Linked DNA regions of Homo sapiens: region 2 is linked to region 1. Evidence: fine-mapped expression QTL. A gene starts in region 1. The other region holds a variant in brackets. All regions are shown on one strand. Distances are between the middles of the regions. Region 1 holds the start of SERPINI2 (serpin family I member 2). Region 2 has its middle 35 kb from the start of LINC01327.

The links. PIP is the estimated chance that this variant, and not a neighbour inherited with it, causes the effect.
Region 2: its variant is fine-mapped to the expression of SERPINI2 in pancreas (GTEx, PIP above 0.99).

The regions. Positions count from the first base shown.
Region 1 is chr3:167,468,799-167,477,943 of GRCh38, reverse strand. It overlaps SERPINI2 (serpin family I member 2), which reads left to right and starts at 3,902. Exons shown (of 9, transcript NM_006217.6): 1 at 3,902-3,941; 2 at 6,100-6,356. The coding sequence starts at 6,110. It overlaps LOC105374197 (a long non-coding RNA gene), which reads right to left and starts at 8,373. Exons shown (of 3, transcript XR_924683.3): 1 at 8,304-8,373; 2 at 6,823-6,879; 3 at 3,484-3,572.
Region 2 is chr3:167,423,548-167,432,692 of GRCh38, reverse strand. No RefSeq gene overlaps it. Among named protein-coding and RNA genes, the nearest start is that of LINC01327, 35 kb to the right of the region's middle. The variant C/T (reference allele first, on the strand shown) is at 4,813.

The DNA.
Region 1 (9,145 bases):
TATAGCAACTGCAAATGTCCATTGTGTTTAAACCACACAATAATCATATGAATATATTAGCTTAGAGCTAAAATATGAGATGCGAATCTATTAGGAGAGTGCTCAATTATCAATGGCAGAGTTGAGATTGGAACCCAGGTCTGTTTTACTCCCAAACCATGGTATTTGCCATTCATCATTCTGTACACTTGCTTCTTATTAGTATAAAGCCAATGGAATGAATTCTAACACTAGACTTTCCAGCACCAGTGGAGCAAATATTTTGGTTTGGTGGAGAAGGCGGTGATGGAAGGACTTTCAGAAGACAGCTGCCTATTCTAACTACATTTAAGTGTATTCTGAGTTAGGCATTATGACTTCTATTCATATCGCCTTTCCTCCTCATGGAATGAAAATTACATGCAGGAAAGATTGTAGGAGAAAAGTATATTTGTCTCTGTGTGTGTGTGCGTGTGTGTTTGTCTGTTGGGTGGTGTGATGATGTACAAGAAGTGTCCTTGTTTTAGAAAAATATAATAATAGAATGTTTAAGTATGATAGAAATTATGTTTTTAGCTTGCTATAAAATGATTCAGAAAATACTAATTATATGTATATATAAAATGTATATATATGCACACACAGGTAACACATATACATATCTATATTTACATCTGTTTGCTTATTGGGAGGATAGATACATAGATGAAACACACACATGCGGTAGATGCTAACAATTGGGGAAAGAGGAGGAGGTGGAGATAGCAGTTCTTTGAACTATATCTGCAACTTTTATGTAAATTTGAAAGTATTTCAAGGTAAATTTTTTTAAAATATAAAAAGTTGCTTTTGAACAAAAAGATTATTTGAGATGTTCAAGCAGACACTGGGTAACTGTCTCACGGGGATATTGCAAAGACTTCTTGCACTGGGTAGGAGGTTTGACTGGGTAATCCATCATTTCAAACTCAGAGCACATGATTTATGAATCATAGGTTGGTGATAGTACAATGGAGTGAAATCTGAGCCACATGCCCAGAAATTTAATGGAATGTTAAGATGTTATAAAAGTAGAATGCGGGTACCAAATAATTTGCAAAGGCTCTTTTCCCCACTGATCCGTCCATCCCTCATGTAAGTATTGAAGGCATGTATAAGAGATTATTTTAGGTTCCGGGTATTCACATATAAATAGAATGCACCTTTTCTACCCTCAGCGTTCTGAAGTGAAGCTATATAAAATGTAGTGGTTTATTAAGCCAATACTAAATGAGCCCACTGGCATAAGTTGGAAATTCATAATCTGGCATATTTTTTCCAGTCTAATTTGGGAATTCTTTTGCTAGATATACTTTACTGTTTACCCTTGAAGATAACTTTGTTTGATGTGATAGCCTGAGATAGTCTGGTTCATACAGACAGACCTTCTCTCTATAGCCTACTACATGTGCATGGTATTATGCTGTAACTCTAATTCCATCCTTAATTAACATCAGGGCTTCTTCTGTAAAAGGAATTAAGAAGAGCTGTCTCATAAATATATTCAATGAGAAGAGAACTTTTAAAGGTATGAGACTTTCAAGGTAACTGTTTCTAATAATTTGGAGAAAAAACACAAAAAGAAGAAAAAAGACAATGTCTTTTTTTCTGTGTCTTACTCTTCTTTTGTAACTCACAGCATCTAATTTTCTAGGCAGGTAGCAGGATCTCACCTGTCAACTCTTAACAGAACTGAAGGCATTATAAACTGTTTCTGAAATTAACATTCAGATTCAATTACTTATGATCCATTTTTCTGTGGTAAAAGGAATTGGTCACATTAAAATAGGATATGTCATAATTTTCAATAGGCTACCTTGTTTGTATTACTTATATTTACACTAAATATAATTTAACATTTTCTTTTGTCAGAACATTTTCCTATTATCACTCAAAATTTAGGAACAATCTTACCAAAAAAAATTGCCTGAAATGAGTCCATGCTTAAATGGAAGAATTAACTTTTAAGTTCTTTACTGATGAGGGCATTTGCTTATACATTTTTAAAGTTTGGAATTAAGTGCACTTTTACTTGAAAAAACTATAAAAGGATAAGAAAATTGATGAGATGATAACTGTAACCCTTTGCTGTGGTTTTTATATATATTCCTAGGCTTATACTTTACAGTCGGACAGTAATGGCGATCAACCTTCTACCAAGACACGTTGGCTCTCATTAATGAATAATTCTCCCCCCACCCCGATTTTCTAGGAGCAAAATAGAATTGTAGAAAAAAGCGGTTTGGGAAAATATTTTAAAAATTTGTGGTAATATTTTATGGACAATTGTATTGTCGTCATTGTCTATTAAAAGAGGTTAAACCAGGGAGAATAAATTTATGGCTATTGCTTTTTACTCCTCAAGAGACAGGAAAATGAACATTCTGCCTGAACTGCTCTAATATAAGGTCCTTACAGAACAATTTCATTAAATGGTCTTAGTAGGACAGAGTGACGGTCTCTGCCATTGGTAGGAAAAGTAATGGACTATTTCTGGATAAATCACATTGTGATCTGAGCAGTGTACAGACATAATGATGTGGTAGCCAAGGGTACTGGTGATATATGTTTGCTGGTGTCAGTAAATGGGTAGAAAAGCATTGATTGAATGATAGTCTTGACATTCAGACTTAATATTTATGTATTGCAGTGTGAAGCAAGTAGAATGATAGTATTCTTGTATTGCACAACTCTTTTTGGAAAATTATCTCTGTGTTAAGTTAAAGCTACACTAGAGTGTGCTTATGATAGAGTAGGTAATATTAGAATAAAACTCAAGATCTAGAAAACATTTGGAGATGCCTATATGGGAAATCAAAAAATTTTAGTTAATTAGTAGATTATGGCCTATAATGATCTATTCTCAGGCCTATTTTTAAGTTATAGCCATGTTAGGACATGGAAAGATGTTAACAGGGTCCTCTGACAAGTTTTTAAAAATGAATTCCATTTAAAGCTATCTATATTCACTTTATTTCTTTTACATGAGTTTATCAGAAATAGTATTAAATTTGGGGATCAACAGATATTTAATTAAAAGTGAACTAAATTTTTTTTCTCTTCTCAAAGGCTATAGATAAATAATACAATGTGCTTAATATCTGATTGCCATTGAGGTGATTGATTTGAACTACAAAAATGAGATGAAACCCATTAAATTATGCAATTTTTTATTAATGACCTTTTTGCAAAGAAAATCATGTAGAGTTTCAAAAGCACATAAAGGTAACAGCAATTTTTATCATCCAATTACCTATGGCTAATAGTATTGTCCTGATATATTTTGGCAAATCCATTATCTTTTTTGCTGGCCTTTCTGCTCAGAATAAAGAACATATTTCTTCAATATCCACTCTTTTTCTTAAGGATTCAAATGGACCTTATATCCACAGGAAACTCCTCTGACTATTGTATAATTTGATGAATGTTGAGAACTCTGTCAATGCAGCAGTGATTTGTCTCTGTATTCTGGACTTGATTTAGCTTTATTCTTTTTCTCATAGGCATTCTGAAATATTTATGACAAAGTGCATTGGTAATCTGATGTAGGAGTCCTGTGAGAAACAAAAAGAACTAATTACTAGCAAATTTACAACCAGTAGCGCATCCTTTCAAATTCTGTGCAACTTTTAAAAGAAGCAAAATAATGGATAAAATAATAATATAAATTTAATACTTTTAAAAAATTCTATAATTGTTTTTTTCTCAATTCTTGCACATTTCATCAGTTGATCATTAACCCGATTGTGTTAGTTCTTAATACAAATGTAGTGAACACCTGCTTTTGTTCTAGAGGAATTAATCAAGCAATGGTCAAGATAAATGGAGTTGGCCTTGATCGCTCAGGTGTTTATGTACAAGAGTTTTCCAGCAAGCGTATTTTAGTTGTAACATTCCAGTGAATAATCAGAAGTCAGTTTGGGGTAAGTACCTTAGAAATAAATAGCTTTTGAATAAGTATGTATGCAATAACATTGCCTATGAATGTTTAGTAGAGTATGGAATGGCATTTCAATTTACTTTGGTGTAAAAATCATTTGAATTTATTTAATTAACATATCGCTTTTATTCTCCTTAAATGATTTCACCACAAATCAGAAGATCCAGTTCTTATAGGACTATTCATCAGGTTGTTTAGTTCAGCATTACTTTGTGCTTTCTGATAAGATATGATCCAAAACCTGATGAGGTAAGTGAGTTTTTAAAACCAATATTTGTCTGAGGTTATAATTTATTAAGTGCTTAGAAATTTTCTAGAAAAAATGGATGTGGATGCTCAAATAATATAAATTTAATTATTAAGATTATTAATAATAATGAGAAGGAAACTCTAATACTGAGATTCTACCACAAAGAAAAAAATTACATTTTTAATAATACTGTTCATTATTCCAATATAAACCAAATACATAAAGCTATATCTAATGTATTTCCAGTTGATAACTTAAAGGTACTAATAACATTTTGACTACGTATCTACAAACACATATTTTGGTCAGAAGTCTTCTGAGAAATTGAATATATTAGAAGATAATGATACACAGACATTTATTTTGCATGTAAAACTTCTCTTACTCACTGGTTTTTAACTATTGTTGCACTCTCATTTATAAGCTCATATGCTAAATTAATCCCTAATGAAACATTTGCTTGATATTAATAGCATATAGGTCTATATCTAAAGTTTACCAACACATTTTCTAACAATTGCTTTGGATTGTTTTTTGAGGCTTTTGTCTTTTGCAAATATATATCTAAACAAATACAGTTTAACAAAATACATTGAAGGATAAATAATGACTCCATAGTTTAATTTGGAACAATATTTGACTATTAGTAATCTTTATATATAAATATAGTTGTTCTTAGGGACTCCTACCATTTATGGTACCCTTAATGATCTGCAAAACACTCTAGAAATGTAAGTCTCTACTTAAGGCTGACAACAGACTATTCTAAAGGCTTTCATCTTTACCCCTAATTAAGGGTTACTTCCTAGTAACTTACTGATGGATAAGTTTTTAAGGATTACTAACATGTATTATTTATAAGGTAAAATTATTGTTACTAAAATTTATGAGGCCTTGGAGTCAACATTCTACCAAATATGTGGTAATATTGCAAAACTAATTCTGCTTGAGATATAATCAAATGGTTGAATTTCCTGCAATTTTAGTGGAGAGCACTTTAATAGGGTATTATTAGTCTTGTGAATTGTTTATGGTTTTTAATTGCTGCTACTCTTACATTTGTTAGTATTTCTGTCAATTCTTTGATATTATATTTCATTTTATTTATATTTTTTCTTTTATAATTTCAAGTTTTATTACAGATTAATGTACATGTGCAGGTTTGCTACATGGGTATATGGCCTGACACTAAGGTTTGGGGTATAAATGATCTCATCACCCAGGTAGTGAGCATAGTACTTTATTGTATCATTTATATTTGATTGCCATTTTGTTTCAAACTTTGCAGGTTTTCTGCATTGTATTTGTCTTCTTTTGGAAAAGCAGGAAGAGGGCTTTGGGTTATTTTGTCCTAAGAAATAAAGCGTGAGGAAAATTGTAAAAAGTTAGCCAGATTACTCAGTTGCTTTAGAATACATTAATTTTCTAATATTATAGGTCTAAAACCACACTGGAGTAAGTCTGTTTTTATTCCATTTCTTCCTCTTGATCTATAAATTACTGTAGAGTAGACAGCACAGAAGGTTTACCTGATGTCAGAGTTACAGTTATCCCACTTAACCATGAGAAAAGATAGAAAAAAACTATTGTATAACTATTTGGAGATACCATTGCCATTGATAACATTCCAACATTGTAGTGTCTTTTTTGATTTTTGCTACAAAACTACAAGTATATTTTCTACTGGTTCTTGAAGATATGTAAGAAATACCATTAACACATGAACTATTTTTCTGAATAGATGATACTTAGAAATCTAATTGGATAGAGTTCACTTGTGGTAGTAAGTTCTATTAAGATAGAAAGCTACAACAGGTAGAAAGTTTTCTGTTGAGCTCTCTGTGGAAAACTCTATTTTGAAAATGAATATATTTTGATTTAAACAATACAGAGAAGTCAAAATGGACACAATCTTCTTGTGGAGTCTTCTATTGCTGTTTTTTGGAAGTCAAGCCTCAAGATGCTCAGCTCAAAAAAATACCGAATTTGCAGTGGATCTTTATCAAGAGGTTTCCTTATCTCATAAGGACAACATTATATTTTCACCCCTTGGAATAACTTTGGTTCTTGAGATGGTACAACTGGGAGCCAAAGGAAAAGCACAGCAGCAGATAAGACAAACTTTAAAACAACAGGAAACCTCAGCTGGTGAGACTCTTACATCTCCTTACTTATACTGGATAAGATATGGACGCATTCATTTTTTAATATTAGAAGTTCAGGATAAAGAAATTTTAATAAGTGAAAATGTAATGAAAAGTACAAAATTGTAATAAAATGGAGAATTGTAAATGTAATTTTCATTCATTTATAATTAATTCCTTTAAAAGGTTACAAAAATTATTAAGAAATTGACATCTATATAAATGTAAAATTAAGTAAATATTTGTACATTTTCTTTTAGTTTGTTTTAGCCAGTTTTAATTACTTGAGATTATACTGGGCGTGCATGTGTGTGTGTGTATGTACATACTCATAAAATATACATCTATACACATACATATTCTTCCACTATCACTATGTTGTGATCATTTTCCCATGTCATGGAACTGATTCAAAATATGATTTTTAATTACTGTATCTTATTGCCTCTTATAGAAGTACCATTACTTACTTAGCCTTTCTTCAGTAGGTTGTTTCCAACATTTCTCTTAAAAAAAATGCACCTCATCTGTAACGAGACCAAGAAAAAACATTAATTTGTTCATTTTAAAAGCTTATTTGTTACTAGTTTTAAAAGGAAAATGGAAAAAAAAGGATTTAAATAATCAGAGGCCTTTGTGCTTGTGAATGATGATTGTTTTGTTGGAGTCTCCTCATGGACTGTCTGGGATAGTGTCTATCCCTCTTACTGGGATACTGTGCTTTTGTGCTGGCATCCCATTTGAAAGAATTGTTGCTTGGCTGGTGTGGTGGCTCACACATGTAATCTCAGCACTTTGGGAGGCTGAGGCAGGTGGATCACTTGAGGTCAGGAGTTCGAGACCAGGCTGGAAAAATACAAAAATTTGCAAGGCATGGTGGCATGTGCCTATAGTCTCAGCTACTTGAGAGGCTAAGGCAGGAGAAGTGCTTGAACCCAAGAGGCAGAGGTTGCAGTGAGCTGAGATCGTGCCACTGCACTCCAGCCAGGGCAAAAGAACAGACTCCTTCTCCAAAAAAAAAAAAAAAAAAAAAAAAAAAAAGTTGTTGCTCATCTCCTCAGCTATCTCATGCTCTCAGTTTCTATAGTTGTTTTAATTTTCAGCTTTTGGATTACTCTGAGATACTGTGTTCTAAATACAGATTTTTGATTTGGGAATTTAGTTGCTACAACTATAATTTCAGTGTATTTTTCTTATCACAGAGTAGCAGTATTTAGAAATTTGCTTTCCTGAAAATACTATTTACAAGATTTTATTTGCTTCATTTTAAATAAAGACAATTTTATACAGAAAAGACGTTGGTAATAGTGAAGTGAAGTTAATTGTAAGAATTTTTCTTTGCAAATAGTGCACACTGAAGCCAATGTATTCCAGATTTAGTCTTGATTAATTTCAGCAAATCCCAATATACCACTCCCAGAAACGTTTAAACCACATGCTATAGCTTTGAAAAAGTAATACAATATTTGTGAAGATACATAAATTAGAGTCTCTGAAAACTTAAATTACTTTAAATGGATACATGATATAGAGAAACACAGAAGTTTTAACAGGTGTGAATTGTGAACATGATAAAGTAATAGTAATAACGCACTATCAAAAATATAGAAAGGATATCAGCCACTGTTTCATGTGCTTAATATATATTCTCTCATTTAATATTTATAATTACTTTGTTAAGTAAACAACCTTGTAATAAACCTGAGAAAACTGAGGCAAAGAAAGGTTAAATAATTTGCTCAGTGCTAATTCCTAAAATAATTCAGTGAGGATTAAGAATATAAGAGCAATATATTCTCACTAATATATTAATAAGAATATTAATTCTCATATATTATGTAAGGCTCTCAGTGTCCTCAGTTCTCCTTCTTTACTTCATTGTCAAAACATCTGCTCTGAATTTACCTCCTCCATTTTGCTGAACATCTGTTAATACTCCCTTTTGCTTTACCTCTGATAATGCTGATGACGAATCAAAGGCTAAATTCAATGTGCTTCTTTTTTCCACAGGGTTTTGAAAAGAGAACTGGGCATGAATTCCTGTCCCAGTTCTGCAACTAAATGACCTTGTGATTTGGCACAAGTCATGTCACTTGTGAAGCTTCTTAATCTCTCTGGGCCTCAGATTCCTCACTGTAAAAAGAAAAGTTGAGGTTAGGTAATTTATTTGGACCTTTTGGCTGAAATAATCTATAATTCTACGACTACGTTTGTTTTCATCTTTGGATCTCCCATATGCACACAAAATTGGCTTTTAGACTTTTACTAGCAGAAGAGAACATGCACTGAATTTTAGAACATTTTCTGGAGGTCTGGTACAATCAAATCAAGAGCCACATTCACCCATGACCTGTGGGTTATCCATGGCTCTATTTTAGAAAATGAAATAAACTTGTTGTCATTACTTATTAGGAGATATATAATTTTTGATCTGTGCTAAAAATGTCATTAATCTAGAAACGAAATAAAATTTATAGGGCAGATAATGTTATATTCTTCTCCAAACTTGTACTACTTAGTGACATTTTTTTCATTGACTTCTGAGTTCAACAGTTTATCAAAGGGCAGCTGTTTGTCACATAGACTTAGACCTTAAGTACATGACATAAATCTATTTGCTTTGACAAATGATTTGGAACTACTTTTTCTCCCTTTCTCTCTTTTTTTATTCCTTTAAAGATGTTCATGTATTTCAGATTTCTGAAAATTAGTTTCAGATTCTGTCACTTCATTTCTGACCTTAATTAATTCTTTTGGAAAAGCTCTCGTGTCTTTACTCAGAAAGCCTTTTCT
Region 2 (9,145 bases), 45 kb after region 1:
GACCATTTGCCTATTTTATGACAAGGATTATTTAGATCTTGTAGGATGGAAAAATTGAAAGTGCCATTTTCTGGCTATTTGGAACTACTGTCGAGTTTGTATTGGGGTCAAGCGGCATTGCAGAAGAAAATAAGATGCTTAGATTTTAGGTCAGGTGAGAGTTGAAGAGGTATTAAGTTCTTAAGAACACAGGCTAAGGGAGAAGAAGGAGGAATGGAAGGTGGAAGCTTGTCCATAGTGAAGGAGGCAAGCCCAGAGAAAAGAGAGTAGAGACACAGAGAAGGGATGGGGGGTTATTGCCCTCCAGAAAAGAAGAGAAGGGGTTGGGGCATGGAAATAAGGGGTTGGGGTGCAGAGATAAGAGGTTGGGACACAGAAATAAGGGATTAGGTTGCAGAGATAAGAGGTTGGGGCACAGAAATAAGGGATCGGGGCACAGAGATAAGAGGTTGGGGTTCCTGCCTCTCCCCCAGAAAAGCGGTACTTGCCGCTAAGGGTGAAGGAGAAGGGGTTGAGAGGTTCTTGCCCCTCCTCCAGAAAAGCAGGACTTGCCACAAAGGGTGAAGGACAAAGGCAAGCATCCTTGCATGGTCTGACACCTCTGAAACCTGGGTGAATAATCAGAGAGGTGTCCCACAATGATTAAACACCAAGGGAAGGCTGCCTTCCCTAGTCCGTGACCAGCACCGGAGCTTTGGGTCCAGGGATAAAACGTGTCTCCTTTGTCTCTACCAGAAAATGAAAGGGATTGAAATTAAGAGAAGGGAGAGATTGAAGTGTGGCACCAAGATTGAAAGGAGAAAGAGGTTGAGGGATAGTGAGAGAGGTTGGAGAAGAGAGTAAAAAGAGGCTGCTTACTGGATTTAAAATTGGCAAGATGTTCCTTGGGCTGGTTGGTCTGAGGACCAGAGGTCGTAGGTGGATATTTCTCAAGGAGCAAAGAGCAGGAGGACAGGGGATTGATCTCCCAAGGGAGGTCCCCCGATCTGAGTCACGGCACCAAATTTCACTCTCTTCAGTGTGAAGAGACCCCTAAACAGGCTTTGTGTGAGCAATAAAGCTGTTTGTTTCACCTGGGTGCAGGTGGGCTGAGTCCAAAAAGAGAGTCAGTGAAGGGAGATAGGGGTGGGGCCGTTCTATAGGATTTGGGTAGGTAAAGGAAAGGGGGGTTGTTCTCTGGCAGGCAGGAGTGGGGGTCACAAGGTGCTCAGTAGGGGAGCTTTTGAGCCAGGGTAAGCCAGGAGAAGGACTTTCACAAGATAATGCCATCAATTAAGGAAGGAAACAGGCCATTTTCATTTGTTTTATGGTGGAATGTCATCAGTTAAGGCAGGAACTGGCCATCTGGATGTGTACGTGCAGGTCACAGGGGATATGATGGCTTAGCTTGGGCTCAGAGGCCTGACACATTCCAGATGTATTTCTCACAAAGATCTTGATCTTTTACATTCTTTATTAATAGTTGTCTCTTTATAGGTTTGAGATTTATTTAAAAACAGCCTATGTATATTTTTACTCATGTCCATGTGTACAGACCACCAAACAGGCTTTGTGTGAGCAATAAACCTTTTTAATCTCCTGGGTGCAGGCAGGCTGAGTCTGAAAAGAGAGTCAGTGAAGGGAGATAGGGGTGGGGCCATTTTTTAAGATTTGGGTAGGTAGTGGAACATTACAGTCAAAAGGGGTTGTTCTCTGGCTGGCAGGTGTGGGGGTCACAAGGTGCTCAGAAGGGGACTTTTTGAGCCAGGAAGAGCCAGGAGAAGGAATTTCACAAGTTAATGTCATCAGTTAAGGCAGGTACCGGCCATTTTCACTTCTTTTGTGATTCTTCACTTGCTTTGGGGCATCTGGACATATATGTGCAGGTCACAGGGGATACGATGGCTTAGCTTGGGCTCAGAGGCCTGCATTCCTGACTTCTTATATTAATAAGAAAAATAACATAAAATAGTATTGAAGTGTTAGGGCAGCGAAAAAAATTTTTTTGGGGGGTGGTATGGAGAGATAATGGACGATGTGTCTCAGGGCTGCTTCAAGCGGGATTAGGAGCAGCCTGGGAACCTACAGTGGGAGTGGTCAAGTTGAAGGAGGATTTTTTTGTAAGGTGTGATATTGTGGGGTTGTTTGAAGGAGGATTTGTCATATAGAATGATTTGTGATGGCCTGGATATGGTTTTGGATGAATTGAGAAACTAAACAGAAGATACAAGGTCCGAATAATAGAAGGAGAAAAATAGGTATTAAAGGACTGAGAATTGGGAGGACCCAAGACATCCAATTAGAGAGTTCCCAAGGGGGTTCAGCGTAATTACTTGCTTGGTTGGTGAGTTTTTGGGCTCTATCCTTGAGTTTTTTTATGTTGTCATACACCTGGCCAGATTTATGTAGGTAAAAACAACACTCTCCATTAAAAAATACACAGCGTCCTTCTTTTTCAGCAGTGAGTAAGTCAAGGCCTCGGCAGTTTTGGAGGACAACTGCAGCTAAAGAGTCAACTTGGGCCTGGAGGACTGAGAAAAGTTTGTGATATGTCTGTGCTGCTAACAGAGAAGTCATTAGAGAGGCTACGGAAGGTCATGACAGAGGTTGAAATGCCTGCTATTCCAGTACAGAGAGCAATAGTGGAGGCAGAAAGTCCAAACCGACAAGCAAGGGAATTAGTGGAATAACCATTTTTTGTCATGTCGGTGTCCATGAGGGGAACAGGGAGCTCTTCAGTCCCATTTTCAAATTGAATTTGGGGATTATGGAAAACTAGTGTGCATGTGCCTGTCCAATTAGCAGGTAGACACATGTAGGTAGAGGATCCACAAAGGAAGAAGAGACCTGTGCAAGGCAAAACTGGAAATGCAAAGTAAAAAGATGAGAAGGAGTGCTGAAAGGGGCGTCTTGTACCCAGACTCTTAGGGATGCAGCTAGGGCGGCAGCCATCAGAGGTTGTAACGGGGACTGATGGGGTAACTGCATAGAGGGTGAGGTTCGATTTTCATGGTGTGTGAGAAAACGCTGAGTGTCTATGAGCAATCTTTCACTGTTATTTATGGGGCTGGATATAAGTAAACAAGAAGCGGGCCTGGGAGGAGAGTCTGATGAGCAAGGGGAAGGTAGCCAAGGATGGAGTGAAATACAGGGTAAGTGTCTTCCTAAGGAATAATTACTGCTATTGTTTTTAAGTTTGCCAGTATTGATAGAGGGCTTTTCTGTACAGAGCTGGAAGGCTCCAATTGTTTCAGTGATGTGTGTAGTTGGGCTTTGGAGATGAAGAGGGAAGGAACATCAAGAAGGTGAAAGGTTACCCAGGGGAATTCCAGTGGGCCTTTGCTGAGAGATACATAAAGGAGCGGCCACAGGAATAGTAGTTTGTGTTGTGAGAGGTCCAAATATGGGGGGAGTAGAGTTGATATAAGGAGAAAGGTTTTTTAAGTAAGTGCAGAGGAGGGCTGCAGCTTGCTGATGTGAAATGTCTGGGGATGTCTTGCTGGACCTGTCTAGAAAGTAAATGAGTTCTTCAGGAGGGTAAAGGTGAGGGCTGTTAAAGGAAGTTCAGAGGTATAAGGAGACAGGAGATATTGCCCAGTCTGTATGTAAGGCAGGGACAGCTGTGTAGATGCTGGAAGAAAGGGAAAGGCAAAGCCAGCAATTGTTCACTAAGGAGGGATTAGAAACGGCTAGGAGAGAGTGAGTAAGGTTGATAGTGTGGTAGAGATAGCTGGGGAGAGGTAGAGGGTGGCGTGAGAATGAGAATAAGAGTGAGTATAAAAGTAAAGAATAGAACTTTATCAAGGTGAAAGTATTGGAGGGTGCCCTGCCAGCAAAGATCATCTATCTACTCTAAGAGGGAGTTAAGAGTGGTTGTTGGGGACAGCACCAGGAGATATCAGCTGTGATGGCTTGGAGAAACAGCATAAACTGGCAGTGTAAACAAGAGTAGGCATTTATGAATAGTTGAGAATGGTGAATAGGAGTATGACTAGACAGAGACAGTAGGGATGACTAGATTTTGGGGCTCAGTCCAAGTAGTGGGGGTGACTGGATAAAGCCCTTTGCAAAAAGTAGGGTAAGGACAAACAGACCTAATAGAATGAAGGGATGTATTAGGCTCATAAGTGTTATTACTCTTCTTCAGAAATGCGAGTGAGTTTAAGGGAAGTAGGAGAGAGTACTTGTGATTTCCAGGAGGAAGAAGAGAAATTAGGCTGGCTGTCCAATGGACACAGCTTTATTCTGGAATGGCGAACCCAGTGGGGAGGATCCTGCAGGTGGAAGGCAGTTGGGGTACTATAGATGACTAAGTAGGGTCCGTTCCATCAAGGTTGTAGAGTTTGAGGGGTCAGATTCTTAACAAGAACTGATCATCCAGCTAGAGTGTCTTCATATGGCTGAGAATCTGGAGTAGGTAAGAGAAGATTAGCAGCCTGGTGAATTTCCTGTCTAGCCTGCTGGAGGACTGGAAGATAGTCTCCTAGAGGGCTGGTGTCTGGGACCTGGTTGGGACCGAGCAAGAAAGTGCATCCATATAAAAGTTCAAATGGACTGCACCCTGTAGCACCTTGAGGACAAGCTCTAATTCTGAGAAGGGCAAGAGGTAAAAGTACTGTCCAGCCCTTTTTAAGTTGGAGGCTGAGCATGGTGAGGTGTGTCTTTAAAAGACCATTAGTCCACTCTACCTTTCCTGAAGATTGAGGACAGTAAGGGATATGAAGATTCCACTGAATACCAAGAGTCTGAGAAACTGCTTGGGTGATTTGACTAGTAAAGGCCCGTCCATTATCAGACTGTATAGAGGTGGGAAGGCCAAACCAAGGAATTATG[C/T]CTGACAGAAGGGAAGAAATGACCATGGTGACCCTGTGGGAAAGACCTCTACCCATCCAGTGAAGGTGTCTACCAAGACCAAGAGGTATTTTAGTTTCCTGACTTGGGGCATGTGAGTAAAGTCAATTTGCCAGTCCTGGGCAGGGGCAAATCTCTGAGCTTGATGTGTACGGATGGGAGGGGGCCTGAACAATCCCTGAGGGGTAGTAGAATAGCAGATGGAACACTGAGAAGTGATTTCCTTGAGTATAGATTTCCATGATGGAAAGGAAGTGAGAGGTTCTAAGAGACAGGCTAGCAGCTTGTAACCTACATGGAAAAGGTTATGAAATGATGAAAGAATAGAATGGGCCTGTGAGGCTGGAAGGAGATATTTTCCTTGATCCAAGAACCATTTGCCTTTTGTGGGAAGAGAATGATAGGTGGAAGTTTCAGTGGGGGAGTAGGTGGGAGTGATTGATGAGAAGGAGAAAAACTGGCCATAAGGGATAGAAGTTGAAACGCTAGCTGCTTCTTTAGCTAGCTACCTTACCAGCATAAGCATTGCCTAGAGCAATGGGATCTGATGCCTTTTGATGGCCCTTGCAGTGAATGACTCCAGCTTCCTTTGGGAGTAAAACGGCTTTGAGATGAGTTTTTATTAAAGAGGCATTAATGATGGAGGACCATTGTGTAGTGAGGAAACCTCTTTCTGCCCATATAACAGCATGGTGGTGCAGGATATGGAAGGCGTGTTTAGAGTCAGTATAAATATTGATGTGTAGTCCCTTTGCAAGAGTAAGGGGCTGAGTTAAGGCAATGAGTTTGGCTTGCTGAGAGGTAGTGGAGGGGGGCAGAGCGGTAGCCTCAATGATAGATGTGGAAGACACTATAGCATAGCCTGCCTTTGCTGGTGAGTGGCAATTAGGCCTGGTGGAGCTGCCATCAATAAACCAAATGTGATCAGGGTGAGGAACAGGAAAGAAGGAAATATGGGGAAATGGGGTGAATGTCAGGTGGATCAGACAGATACAGTCATGGGGGTCAGGTGTGGCATCCAGAATAATGTGGAAGGCCAGATTGAAGTCCAGGCCAGGAACAATGCTAATTGTGGGAGATTCAACAAGGAGCGAATATAGCTGAAGGAGCCACAGAGCAGAAAGTATATGCATCAGGTGTGAGGAAGAAAATAGATTTTGGAAGTTATGAGAGCTGTGGAGAGTGAGTTGAGCACAGTTTGTGATTTTGAGGGCCTCTAAAAGTATTAGGGTGGCAGCAGCTGCTGCACGGAGACATGATGGCCAGTCTAAAACAGTAAGGTCAAGTTGTTTGGACAAAAAGGCTATAGGGCATGGTCCTGGTCCTTGTGTAAGAATTCCAACTCCACAGTCCTGCACTTTGGCTGTGTGTAGTGAAAAGGGTTGGGATGAGTCAGGGAGAGCTAGTGTGGCAGCAGTCTCTAAAGCTGTGTTCAAGGAATGGAAAAGAGGAGTGGGGAAAGGATTTAGGATCTATGGGGTCAGCTAGGTTTCCTTTTGTGAGTTTATATAATGGTTTTGTTAGGATGGCAAAACCAGCTATCCAAAGGCGAAAGTATCCAACCATGCCTAGTAAGGAAAGGAGTTGTTGTTTTGTAGAAGGTGCTGGGGTTTGAGAGATCAGTAGGACATGATTGGCAGGGAGAGCAGTGTGTTTTTATGAAGAATTATGCCAAGGTAAGTAATGGATGGAGAAGAAATTTGAGCTTCAGAGGGGGATAACCGATATGCTTTGGAGAATAAATATTGAAGGAGCAGGAGGGCGTCTTGTTGGGAAGATTGAAAGGAGGGGCTACAAAGTAGAAGGTCATCAATATATTGAATAAGGTGAGAAGCAGAGGGGTGGAAAGAAAGTAAATCATGAGAAAGAGCTTGGCTGAGGTAATGAGAGCTGTCCCTGAAGCCTTGCGGCAGCACAGCCCAGGTAAGCTGCTGGGACTGGTGGGTGTCAGGATCAGTCCAGGTAAAAGCAAAGAGCGGCTGGGATGAGGGGTGCAGGGGAATAGTGAAAAAAGCATCTTTAAGATCAAGAATGGAATAGTGAGTTGTGGAGGAAGGCATTGAGGACAAAAGAGTATACGGGTTGGGCACTACAGGGTGGACAGGCAAAACAATTTGGTTGATAAGGCGCAGATCCTGAACTAACCTATAAGACTTGTCCGGTTTTTGGACAGGTAAAATGGAGTTGAAAGGAGAGTTTATAGGTTTTAGAAGCCCATGCTGTAGCAGGCAAGTGATAACAGGCTTTAATCCTTTTAAAGTGTGCTGTGGATGGGATATTGGTGTTGAGTGGGGTAACGGTGATTAGGTTTTAATGGGATAGTAATGGGCATGTGATCAGTTGCCAGGGAGGGAGTAGAGCTGTCCCATACTTGTGGGTTAAGGTGGGGGGATATGAGAGGAAGACGCAAAGGAGACTTTGGGTTGGGAAGAAGGGTGACAATGAGATGTGGCTGTAGTCCAGGAATAGTCAGTGAATCAGATAATTTGGTTAAAATATCTTGGCCTAATAAGGGAGCTGGGCAGGTGGGGATAACTAAAAAAGATTGCATAAAAGAATGTTGTCCAAGATGGCACTAGAGTGGGGGAGTTTTAAGGGATTTTGAAGCTTGGCCATCGATACCCACAACAGTTATGGGGGCAAGTGAAACAGGCCTTTGCAAAGAAGGTAATGTGGAGTGGGTAGCCCCCATAGCAATTAAACAGGGGATGGACTTACCCTCCACTGTGAGAGTTACCCAAAGCCTGGCATCCGTGATGGTCCAGGGGGCTTCCAAGATGATTGGACAGCGTCAGTCTTCAGCCACTAAGCCAAGCAGATCTGGGAAGGAGTCAGTCAGAAAGCCTTGGGCTAGAGTTTTAGGGGCTCTAGGAGTGGCTGCTGGGTGAGCTAGGCAGTCTGATTTCGAGTGGGTCCCTGCACAGATGGGACACAGCTTGGGAGGAATCCTGGGCTGCAGGCATTCCTTGACCCAGTGGCCAGATTTCTGACACTTGAAGCAAGATCCTGATGGAGGAAGTCCTGTAGGAATGCTTGACTGCTGCAGCTTAGGCATGTGCAGCTTAGGCATTTTGAAGTTCTTGTGTGATGGAGGTGTGGCTGGGTTTTTTCTCACAGCAGAGGCAAATAATTGTAACTCAGAAATGCGTTGCTGTCTGGCTGCCTCCTCTCTATTATTGTACACCTTGAAGGTGAGGTTGATTAATTCCTGTTGTGGGGTTTGAGGGCTGGATTCTAATTTTTGAAGCTTTTTTCTAATGTCAGGAGATGACTGGGTGATAAAATTCATATTTAGAATGAGACAGCCTTCTGACACTTCAGGGTCTAGGGCTGTAAAGCATCTCAGGGTTGCTGCCAAATGAGCCATGAACTGGGCTGGGTTTTCGTCTTTACCTTGGGTAGTTTCTTTAAGCTTGTCATAATTAACAGCTTTGTAAGCTGCCTTTTAAAGCCTTTCAACTAGGCAGGAAATCATGTAATCTCGCCTAGCTATACCTGGGGAATCTGCCTAATAGTTCCATTGGGGATCCTCTTGGGGAACTGCTCTAATGCCTTCCTGGAGGTCTGGCTCATGGAGCTGGCAGTTGTCAGTGTGAGATTGGGCCAGAGAAAAACCTCTTTCCCATTCATCTGGGGAGAGGGTAGAAGTTAGGATGACATTTAAGTCACTCCAGGTTAAATTGTAGGACAGAGTTAGATGTTGGAATTCCTGTATATATTTAGTGGGGCCTGATGAGAAAGAGCCTAAACTCCAACTGATCTGAGAGAGGTCTGATAGAGAAAAAGGCACATGTATCCTGACTATGCCTTCAGTTCCAGCCATCTCTCTAAAAGGAAATTTTTGGGCAGGTGGGGAACAGCTAGTCACAGAACCAAACTGTAAGCTGGACTGGGTGTGAGGAGGGGAGGTGATAGAAGGAGTATAGGGTGGAGGAGAGGAGACTGAGGAAGAATTGGGACTTGGCTCGGCCTGGCGATGAGCAGCCTGGGGAGGAGGGGAGAGGTCAGATGGGTCTGTAGAAAACGAAGATTGGAAAGACTCAGCTACACTTGGGGTTGGGACTGAGGCGACAGGTGGGAGGGAAAGAAGGAGGATTTGGGAGGAATCACATTGGGAACACGGACTAGGGAGGGAACAAAGTGTGAAAAATGCCTAGATGTAAGGCACCTCAGACCATTTGCCCATTTTTCAACAAAAATTAGCTAGGTCTTCTAAGATAGAGAAATTGAAAGTGCCATTTTCTGTCCATTTAGAGCAATTGTCAAGTTTGTATTGGGGCCAAGCGGTATTGCAGAAGAAAATAAGGCATTTAGG